Regions from separate parts of the Homo sapiens genome. Here region 1 is linked to region 2. The links come from fine-mapping of genetic effects on gene expression. A gene starts in region 2. The other region holds a variant in brackets. All regions are shown on one strand. Distances are from middle to middle. Region 1 has its middle 17 kb from the start of KLK2. Region 2 holds the start of KLK4 (kallikrein related peptidase 4).

Region 1 (4,389 bases), 21 kb before region 2:
TTCCGTCTCCATCTCTGTCTGTCTCTTTGCATGTGTATATTTGTGTGTGTGTATCTTATTTTTTTTCTGTTTCTCTAAAAATCCTGTCTGAGAGAAACTTTACTAGTTGTTCTAGAGGAAGGAAGTCTTAAGGATGAGCTTTCTGAATTAGTTCTGGCATTTCTAGTGTTTGGAATTGGTTCTGTAATGCGAATAAATTAAAGGCACCACAACTCTATTTTCAGTAATACAAACAGAAATAAAAGTCCGTGGTGTAATGTGGCAATAGAGATATGCAAAATAACACCACTGGATATTCCGAATCAAATAAAGGAGAAATGACCAGGGTGATCATGTATATGACACTTTAGAATATTTTTTAAAGTAACAAGCATAATGAAATTGGATGATTGCTTCTAGTTGTGTTGGCAAAAGTGGAAAAAGAAAAGAATGAGCACAGGACTTTAAATTTCCAGATCTCAGACTGAAGAAATAATCTAAAGTTGCTATGTCTATGATGTTGAAAGAAACCTTTATCTCCTGTAGCCACAGAGCTGAGATTTCTGAAAATCAAACCTAGAATCTTATTGTGTGAGTGGCTGAATTACAGTGCTAATTAAATCCTCAGCATGCATGCTGTCTGCCATTAAAGTGAAGGCATAATTGAAAGGGTAGGGATCCCAAAAGTTGGAATGAAGACATGTGGGAAGACTCTGATTATGGTCAGGAGACTGGGGAAAGGGTCTAGTTAGAGGATGTGGCCTGAGGCTTTAAAAATGAAGATCCAGGGGACAGATAGAATGTGGCCAGTGTCTGGCAGGATGTGGGGCACTTGGCATCTATCCTGGTGCCTGAGGAAGCAGTGAACTCTCCCAAGAGGGAGAACCCAAGAGGAAGAGCATGTTGGGGAGGAGGAGAGACAAATGGCGAAAGGAAATTTATTATGCCAAAGGTGGGATGAATTTGTATCTGGAAGGATCCAGCTAGAGCCAAGAAGGTTCAGCTTCAGCTTGGCTTACACTATCCCCAGAAAAGTTCAACTCAGCCTTGTTCCCTCTTCTGTTATTTTGCTGTGCCCAGCTGGGGCCCCTCCTAACTCCAAGGGCCAAGAAAGTTCAACTTCAGCTTGGCTTACACTGCCCTCAAAAAAGTTCAACCTAGCCTTGGTCCCTCTTCTGTCATGTGGCTGTGCCCAGCTGGGGCCCCTCCTACCTCCCACCCTTCCATCTCCAGCTGGACAGGTGCAGCCTTAGTGCCCAACTGTTTGTCAAAAACTCTGAAGGGGCTGATATTTTGCCAACTGGCAAACAAATAAGTTAGCCTGCCACAGTTTTATGGATACTGGCAGAACACACTGGATTCTGGATCAAAGGCAAAGGACTTTATTACTCACAGCACAGAAGACAGCATGAGCTTTGTGTTCACATCAGTTCGCCTTGACCCTAAGTCCCACAGGAATGATCAGAGAAGTTTAGGAGGATCCTGTGACACGATGCTTTGACCCACAGCTGAGAAACCTGAGCTTAGGAATCCTGAATCGTATGAAGGGACTATTAATATTTGTCCGAGAGGGAGACACATTCTTCGTTATCCCGACCACAAACAGACCTGCTCTGGAGGAACATACTATATTTATTGTACTGAACACTAAACAAATCTGCTTTAAGGGACACATTATTACACTGGTCGGTAAGCAAAGCTGTTTTGTTGAAAATACCATTTGCAAGATGGCTTGCTAGCCAAACATCCTTGATAGTCCAAAGCAATTTTTTTTTCACTTTGAAGCCATGTAGAAACATGAGAGGCCCATGGAGAATTTTCTCTCAGAATCATAATTTAAATTCTCTAACCTTCCCTGCAAAACAAACTTATACTTTCTTCCTTATACCCCTTGTCTGCCACATCTGTTACCCTAGCCTCACCAGTGTGCCAGGCCCAGTTCCCAAAGATGGCAGGAAAAATATGGGGATCTGATCTGGATGTGCCCTATTGTTGCTGTCTGTTTATGTGTGGATTTGACTTTGAGGGGACATATCCACGTTTCCCAGTGTAGAGGCTCAGGGTCTTCTGACTGTGAAAAGTCCTTGTTTGGTACTTGTGCGTAGTGCAGTTCTGTGTGCGTGTGTGTGTGTTGTGTGTGTGTGTATGTGCATGCACATGTGTATGTGGTGGGTGTGCAAGGCCCTGCTGTCCACTACCTGCCCACACATGTGAGCCATGTCCCCATATGGGAAAACTGATGAGTAACCTTCAACACCAAGTGTCTGACTTGGGGGGTGATCTAGAGACAGATAAATCTTTCCTGTCCCAGCTGCCTGTGTCTCCAGAATATGTCTTTCCCCATAAATGCCCAACTCTGTGTCTGGGAGTAGCCAGGAATCTAACCTATGAAGCTGTATTTGAATGTCTGGCCCTTGGGGTTGGTGTCTGCAACTCTGAATCACCACTAAGTGGTTTTATGGATGAATCACAGTATTAGCTTTGACTAACTTTATCTGGGTCTGCACATATGTCTGATTTTGGCTATATTTGTTTTCAAAATCTGAACGTGCACA[C/T]GTATGTACCATAACTAAGTCATGTGTCCTTGATTAAAATAACTGATATTTATTACTATGCATTACAGTTACTGTGTGCCAGGCATTATCATGCACACCCACACACAGGCATACACACAAAGACACATTTTTCTATTTAAGTCTTAAGGAAACCCCCATGAACAAATGAGGAAATGGAAAGACATTGAGGTCAAATAATTTTCTCAAAGATTCAGAAATAATATGTTTGATCCCAGGTGGTCATACTTTTGGATACAACCACCATACTATAGACCCATGTCTGTGAATTGCTTTTGGAGGGGCTACTCAGGATATGTCCCCTCAAAGTCAAACCCAACACTGCATATCAGTGTCTCTCTCCTGTGTACCTTTACTAAGGCCCCCACCTTGTACGTTCAGACCTTGTGTGCAAGTGTGTGCAACTGGAACACTGGGTATCCAGACCTACAGTGGAGTGTAGATTTTGGTCCAAGCTTCTATGTCCAAAGCTCTGTGTGTGTGTGTGTGTGCGCGTGTGTGCGCGTGTGTATGCACACATACACCTATGTCTTTTTTTTTTGAGACAGAGTTTTGCTCTTGTTGCCCAGGCTGAAGTGCAATGGCATGATCTTGGCTCAAGTCAACCTCTGCCTCCCTGGTTCAAGCTATTCTCCTGTGTCAGCCTCCCGAGTAGCTGGGATTACAGGCATGTGCCACCATGCCTGGCTAATTTTGTATTTTTAGTAGAGAAGGGGTTTCTCCATGTTGGTCAGGCTGGTCTTGAACTCCCAATCTGAGGTCATCCACCCACGTTGGCCTCCCAAAGTACTGGCATTACAGGCGTGAGCCACTGTGCCTAGCCACACCCATGTCTTAACTGTCCACACTTACATACAAATATCAATGTCCATATAGTGACCCTCGAAGCTGAGATCTATTTATATGTTACGTGAAGGTAAGCTGTAAATGCTGTACCTACCAATACCTAAGTTTGAAAGTCTGGTTGTGCATATATGTAGGTCCACAATCTAGTATGGCCACATCTGTGCCCTTGTATGACCCTGAGTTTGGCCGAGATACCCAAACTCTGGGACCAAATTTGTGTGTCATACATACTGAGTGTCACATCCATTTAATATCTGTGACAGATGAATGAGCCTGAATGACTGGCTCCAAGTGACCACTTGTCTGAACTCACTGTATCCAGTGACCTTATCTTCATCCCCAACCACAGAGAACTTCTTGCCCTCTGGTCTTTTCCCCTTTCTCTCTCTTTTGGGAACCTATAACACATGAGATGGGTGGTGGGAACAAAAAAGGATACAGTTCCAGGGAAAAGAGGCAAAAGTTTTTTAAAGCTAGAGAGAAAACAGTATTTTAAAAACATATCAGAGGCTCCTGGAGAAACTGAGGGGAAGGCATAAGTGAAGAATATGTAGGTAGATAAGGGCACAGTCAGGGAATAGGAGGTGAGAAGGACCCTGTCCTCATGGATCCTCTACTCCCATCCCAGAGGCCTAGGACGGTGACTAGGTCCTGGGAACTGAGGAGTGTATGCTCTGCTCCCAATCTTGGCAAGTGATTTTCTTTGAATGTGGACATTTTAACTGTGGTCCTTCATGCACTGTCCCCCGCTGTGAGCTCTCTGAGGCCCACTACCAAACCTGGTAAGAAGGCAGGGGTCAGGGTCCTGAAAAACGTGGCTGGGAGTAGGAACCCATGGGTTCTGTACCTGGAGTTGGAGAAGGCTGAAAGCCGGGAGTCCAAGGTCTTGGAGAAGGAAAATGTTGGGATTCTGGACTCCTGTATTTTAATGGGTTGGGGAGAGAGTCCTTGACTCCTCTGAGGACAAAAGTACTGGAGCTTGGGGACTACA
Region 2 (4,389 bases):
GTGCGGCTGACAGCACCCACTGCGGATGCACCAGGACGCCCGAGCAGAACAATTCGTTTTCCATGACCAGTGCCGCCTGCCAGGGCTGCGAGTGCGGGCTGCAGTCCTCGCCGTTTATGATTTGGCTGCAGCTACCAGAGACGAGCGATCCTGAGGGCGGAGTCAGGGATGGGATCGGGACCAGGAGGCGGGCCCAGGGTTCCTGGGGGTGGGCTTACCGAGCAGGGGCGTGGTCAGAGGTTCAGGAGCAGTCAGGGCTCCTCGGGGCGGAGTCAGGGCTGGGAACGGGCTCAGGAGGCGGGCCCAGGGCTCTTGGGGGAGGGGTTACCGAGCAGGGGCGTGGTCAGGGCTTCAGGAGCAGTCAGGACTCTTGGGGGGCCGAGTCAGGGCTGGGGGCGGGCCCAGGGGGCGGACCCAGGGCTCCTGGGGGTGGGGTTATGGTGCAGGGGTCATGATCGGAGCTTCAGGGGCTGGTCCAGGATATAGGCCTAGGGCTCCCAGGGGCGGTGATCACGGTGCAGGAGCCTGGTCAGGGATTCAGGGTAGTCAGGGCTCCTGGGAGGAGAGTCAGGGCATGGGGGTGGGCTGAGAAGGCGGGATCAGTGCTCCTAGGGTTGGGGTTACAGCGCAGGGGCGCCATCAAGGCTTCAAGAGCTGGGTTATGGCTAGAGGCAGTCTCAGAAGGTGGGACCAGGGCTTCTGGGGCGGAGTCAGGGCTCTGGGGTGAGCTCTGGAGGTGAGACTGGTGCCATCGCGGTGCAAAGCCACGGTCAGGAGGGGTTCAACAGAGGAGTCTAGGCTCATAGCAGTAGGATCGGGTCCTTCGGGGTGAATTAAAGCTCAGGGGGTGGAGTTGTTGCTGGGAGCAAGGATCGGGTCACTTGTCTGCGCAGACTGATGCTCAAAGAGTCGGTCCTGCGCCGAGTCACTCCTATCCTCTCCCAGCCTTGCCCACAGTCACACCAAGCCACAAGCCCATGCACACCAAAACACCGTTTTATAGTCCTGTGAGGTGAGTTCCTTGGGGATGGGAGAGGGGGATCTCAGGACTGAAGACCCAGGAAGCAGGCACAGATTCCCAGCAATGGATCACGCCCCAGGAAGCACAATCTCCTGCACCCTCGGCTTCCCCTGTCCCCATATCATCATTACACTGTTGTCACTCCACCAGATATTCAGAGGCACAAACTGTCAGAGTCTCACAGGTACAACCACACACCCAGGCACACTGCCACACACAAATTTACCACGATACAAGGAGTTGCAGGGGCACAGCCATGGGGGACGGATAACACGGTACCGTCTCACAGGCAGCTTTGCAGTCACAAGCAAGAGGACACTGAGTCACACCTGAACATTAACAAACACTGTGCCCCCAAGCACGGACAGACACACACACGCATACTCAGATACCTGCGACACCAAGGATGAGGTACCCCAGGAACCAGCCCCAGGGATTTCCTGCTGTGGCCATCACGTCAGCACCTGGGGATGAGGACTGAGACTTAGCCGTGTCTGGGGATCTTCAGCCCAAGTCTCTCCATCCCTCTCTTTGTCCCTCCCTTTCTTCCCTCTGGGACGTTATTAGGTAGGCAAGAGCCTAGACCATCTACCCCCTCTCCCATCCATGGACCCAGAACCTAGAGAGACAGATTTAGAGACTGAGAGAGAAAAAGAGAGAGAGAGATGGGAAAAGAGAGAGAGAGAGAGAACTAGGTAGAAAGGAAAGTTTAGAGAAAGCATCTAGCCATCTGTGAATGGGGAGAGATGGTGTCTAGCCACCCACAAACAAGCATGGAGGGAAGACACACAGAGAATCAGAGCCGGAGAGACAGAGTGCTTGAGAGATATCCTCAGAGACAGTCTGAGAGTTAGACATGGAGATATAGATTCAGAGAGACAGAGAGACCCCTAACTAGAGACAGTGACTCCTAACTAGAGACAGTGAGAGATCTGTCTAGAGAGATGTGGAGACAGAAGGCACAGAGGCTGAGAATCCAGCGACATGGAGCTGTAGGGAGAGTTGGATCATGAACACTGCAGGCTTTTAGTGGGGGACCACCAGGCCTCTTACCCGGCCACCTCTGGGCTCCTGGATTCCACTGCTGGGCTGAGCTCCAGCCTGCTGCCTCCCGCAGGGGCCTCCTTGGGGCTTATAAGCATCCTCAGCCTGGGCTGGCCTGCCCCCAGGGGATGTGTTCCAGGGGTCAGGTGCTGCAAACTTCCAGCTCAACTCTCTCAGGCTGCCTCAACTCTGACCAGGCAGTGGTTGGGGGCCCAGAAGGGGCTGGCAGCAGGGTCTAGGGACCCAGGGAGGAGACCCCTGCCCAGATCCTAGACTCCACTCTCCTTTTTCTTTCTCTCTCTCTCTCTCATTCTTTCTCTTTTCATGTTCTTATTCTCTCTCATGAGATACCTCTCTCTTGCCTGTATCTCTCATTTTCTCTTTCTCTTCTTCTTTCTTTCTCTCATTCTCTCTCTCATTATTTTTCTCGTGTTTTCTTTCATTTCCTCTCATTCTCTCCTGTTCTCTCTCATGTTCTTTCTCTTTTTAAATTAAATCTCTCTCTCTCTCTCCCCTCCTCCTTCATCCCTCTCTTTCTGTGCTTCTCCAGCAAATTTCCCCAGGTTCGTATCCAGCCTACATCACGAACTATTTTTGGAACCTTGGGCAAGTGACTGCACCCCTGTGAGCCTGTTTTTCCAACTGTAAAACTGGAGTGACCATTATGCCCCATTTCCCAAGTGGATTCAAAGAGGTAATTCAGGGAAAGGCACACAGTGCCAGGCACATTGTAGGCTCTCGGTGAGCGGGAGAACTAAAAAGTCTTCGCTCAGTGAAAAGCAGCTGAGTGCCTACCACACTCCGAGCTCTGCGGCAGGTGCTGGGGCCACAGGAGGAACCAGCAAAGTCCTCGTCACTGGGGATCGCGTCCTACCCGGGGGCACAGACCATAAAGGAAAACTGCAGGGACCAGCATATAAGGTGGTGGTCGGGGAGACTCAGAGAAGGGGAACATTTAAGCTGAGATCCCAGGGAAGAGGAGGAGGAGGGTCGCCGCAGCAGGGGCGGTTGCGGGGTGCAGGGGAGAACTTGGCTCCAGCCAGAGGAGGGCAGGGCGGGTAGGAGGGCAGGGCGGGTAGGAGCGCAGACCGGGAACCGGGCGGGCCTGCAGGAGTTTACGTACCAGGATTAAGGAGCTTGGGTTTTACTTAAGTGCAATGGATTTTAAGCACGAGGATGGAGTGACATAATCTTATTTACTTTTTAAAAACTTCCAGCTTGGAGAGTGATGGTGGGGGCGGGGCGGGGGGCAGTGGCAACAGCCCAGGTGGGAGGTGACGGGGTCAAGGGAGAAGAGAGGTGAATGGACACGGGGTCCCCTCTGCATGTGGAGCCAAGTTACTGCCCGATGGATGGAAAGTGGGGGGCCAGGAGCAGAGGGGCCAAGGATGGCGTGGAGGCTTGGTCTGCTGGCTTGCGCTCTACGGATCTTGTGGAGACGCATAGGTGCGGGAAGGGGGGTGGGGGGTGAGAGGGTGCCGTAGACCGCGGAGGGTGCACGGAGGGGCAGGCCGAGGTCAGGACTGCCGAGAAACAGCGGGGACTCATCAGGGGAGAGGTGGTGTTTACAGCCACGAGGCCGGGTGAGATCATCCAAGGAGTGGGTGGGTGTAGACCGCGGAGCCGGCGCGGGTGAGGGATAGTGCCCGCAGGTGACCGCGACGAGGCAGGAATGTCTCTGTGTCTCTCTGTCTCTCCTGGGTCTCTAACACTCTTTCCTTCTCCTTCCTTACTTCTTTCCCCCACAGCCCACCCCGTGTGTCTGTCTCTCTTTCTCTCTGGCTCTCTTTTCCTCTGCCTCTCTGGTCCCATCTCTGTCTCTCTCCCCCTTGTCTCTGTTTCTCTCACCTGCCAGACTGGAAGCATCCCAAGTGAGACCCTCCCCCAACTCTGTCCTGGGCCCGTGCGCCCCCAGATAACTCTGGGCAGGACGGGACATAGGCTGGGACCACAGAACAGGAAGCCCTGGCAGGTTTCTGTCTCTGTCTCTCTTTTCCCTGTCCCTGTCCCTTTCTCTCTCTGATCCCTTCTCTCTCGCTCTCCCTCTGACCTCTGTCTGTGACCCTCTGATCTCTGTCTGTCTCTGTCTGCCCCTGTGTGTCTCTCTTTCCTCCTGTCTCTGTCTCACCTTGCCTTCTCTCTCTGTCTGTGTCTCTGCACCTGTGTCTGTCCATCTTTCTCTGTGTCTCTCTCCTCCCATCTCTGTCTCTGTCTGTGGCTCCGCACCTGTCTCTGTCCATCTTTCTCTGTGTCTCTCTCCTCCCATCTCTGTCTCTGTCTCTCTGTCTGTCTCCGCACCTGTCTGTCCATCTTTCTCTGTGTCT

What was found. PIP is the estimated chance that this variant, and not a neighbour inherited with it, causes the effect. A credible set is the group of variants that fine-mapping cannot tell apart.
Region 1: its variant is the best candidate, but not a certain one, in a credible set for the expression of KLK4 in adrenal gland (GTEx, PIP 0.54).

Annotation. Positions count from the first base shown.
Region 1 is chr19:50,888,496-50,892,884 of GRCh38, forward strand. It overlaps the pseudogene KLKP1. Among named protein-coding and RNA genes, the nearest start is that of KLK2, 17 kb to the left of the region's middle. RefSeq lists enhancers at 2,576-2,625, 2,696-2,805. The variant C/T (reference allele first, on the strand shown) is at 2,535.
Region 2 is chr19:50,909,265-50,913,653 of GRCh38, forward strand. KLK4 (kallikrein related peptidase 4) reads right to left here and starts at 2,131. Exons shown (of 6, transcript NM_004917.5): 1 at 2,075-2,131; 2 at 1,414-1,485; 3 at 1-150. The coding sequence starts at 1,474.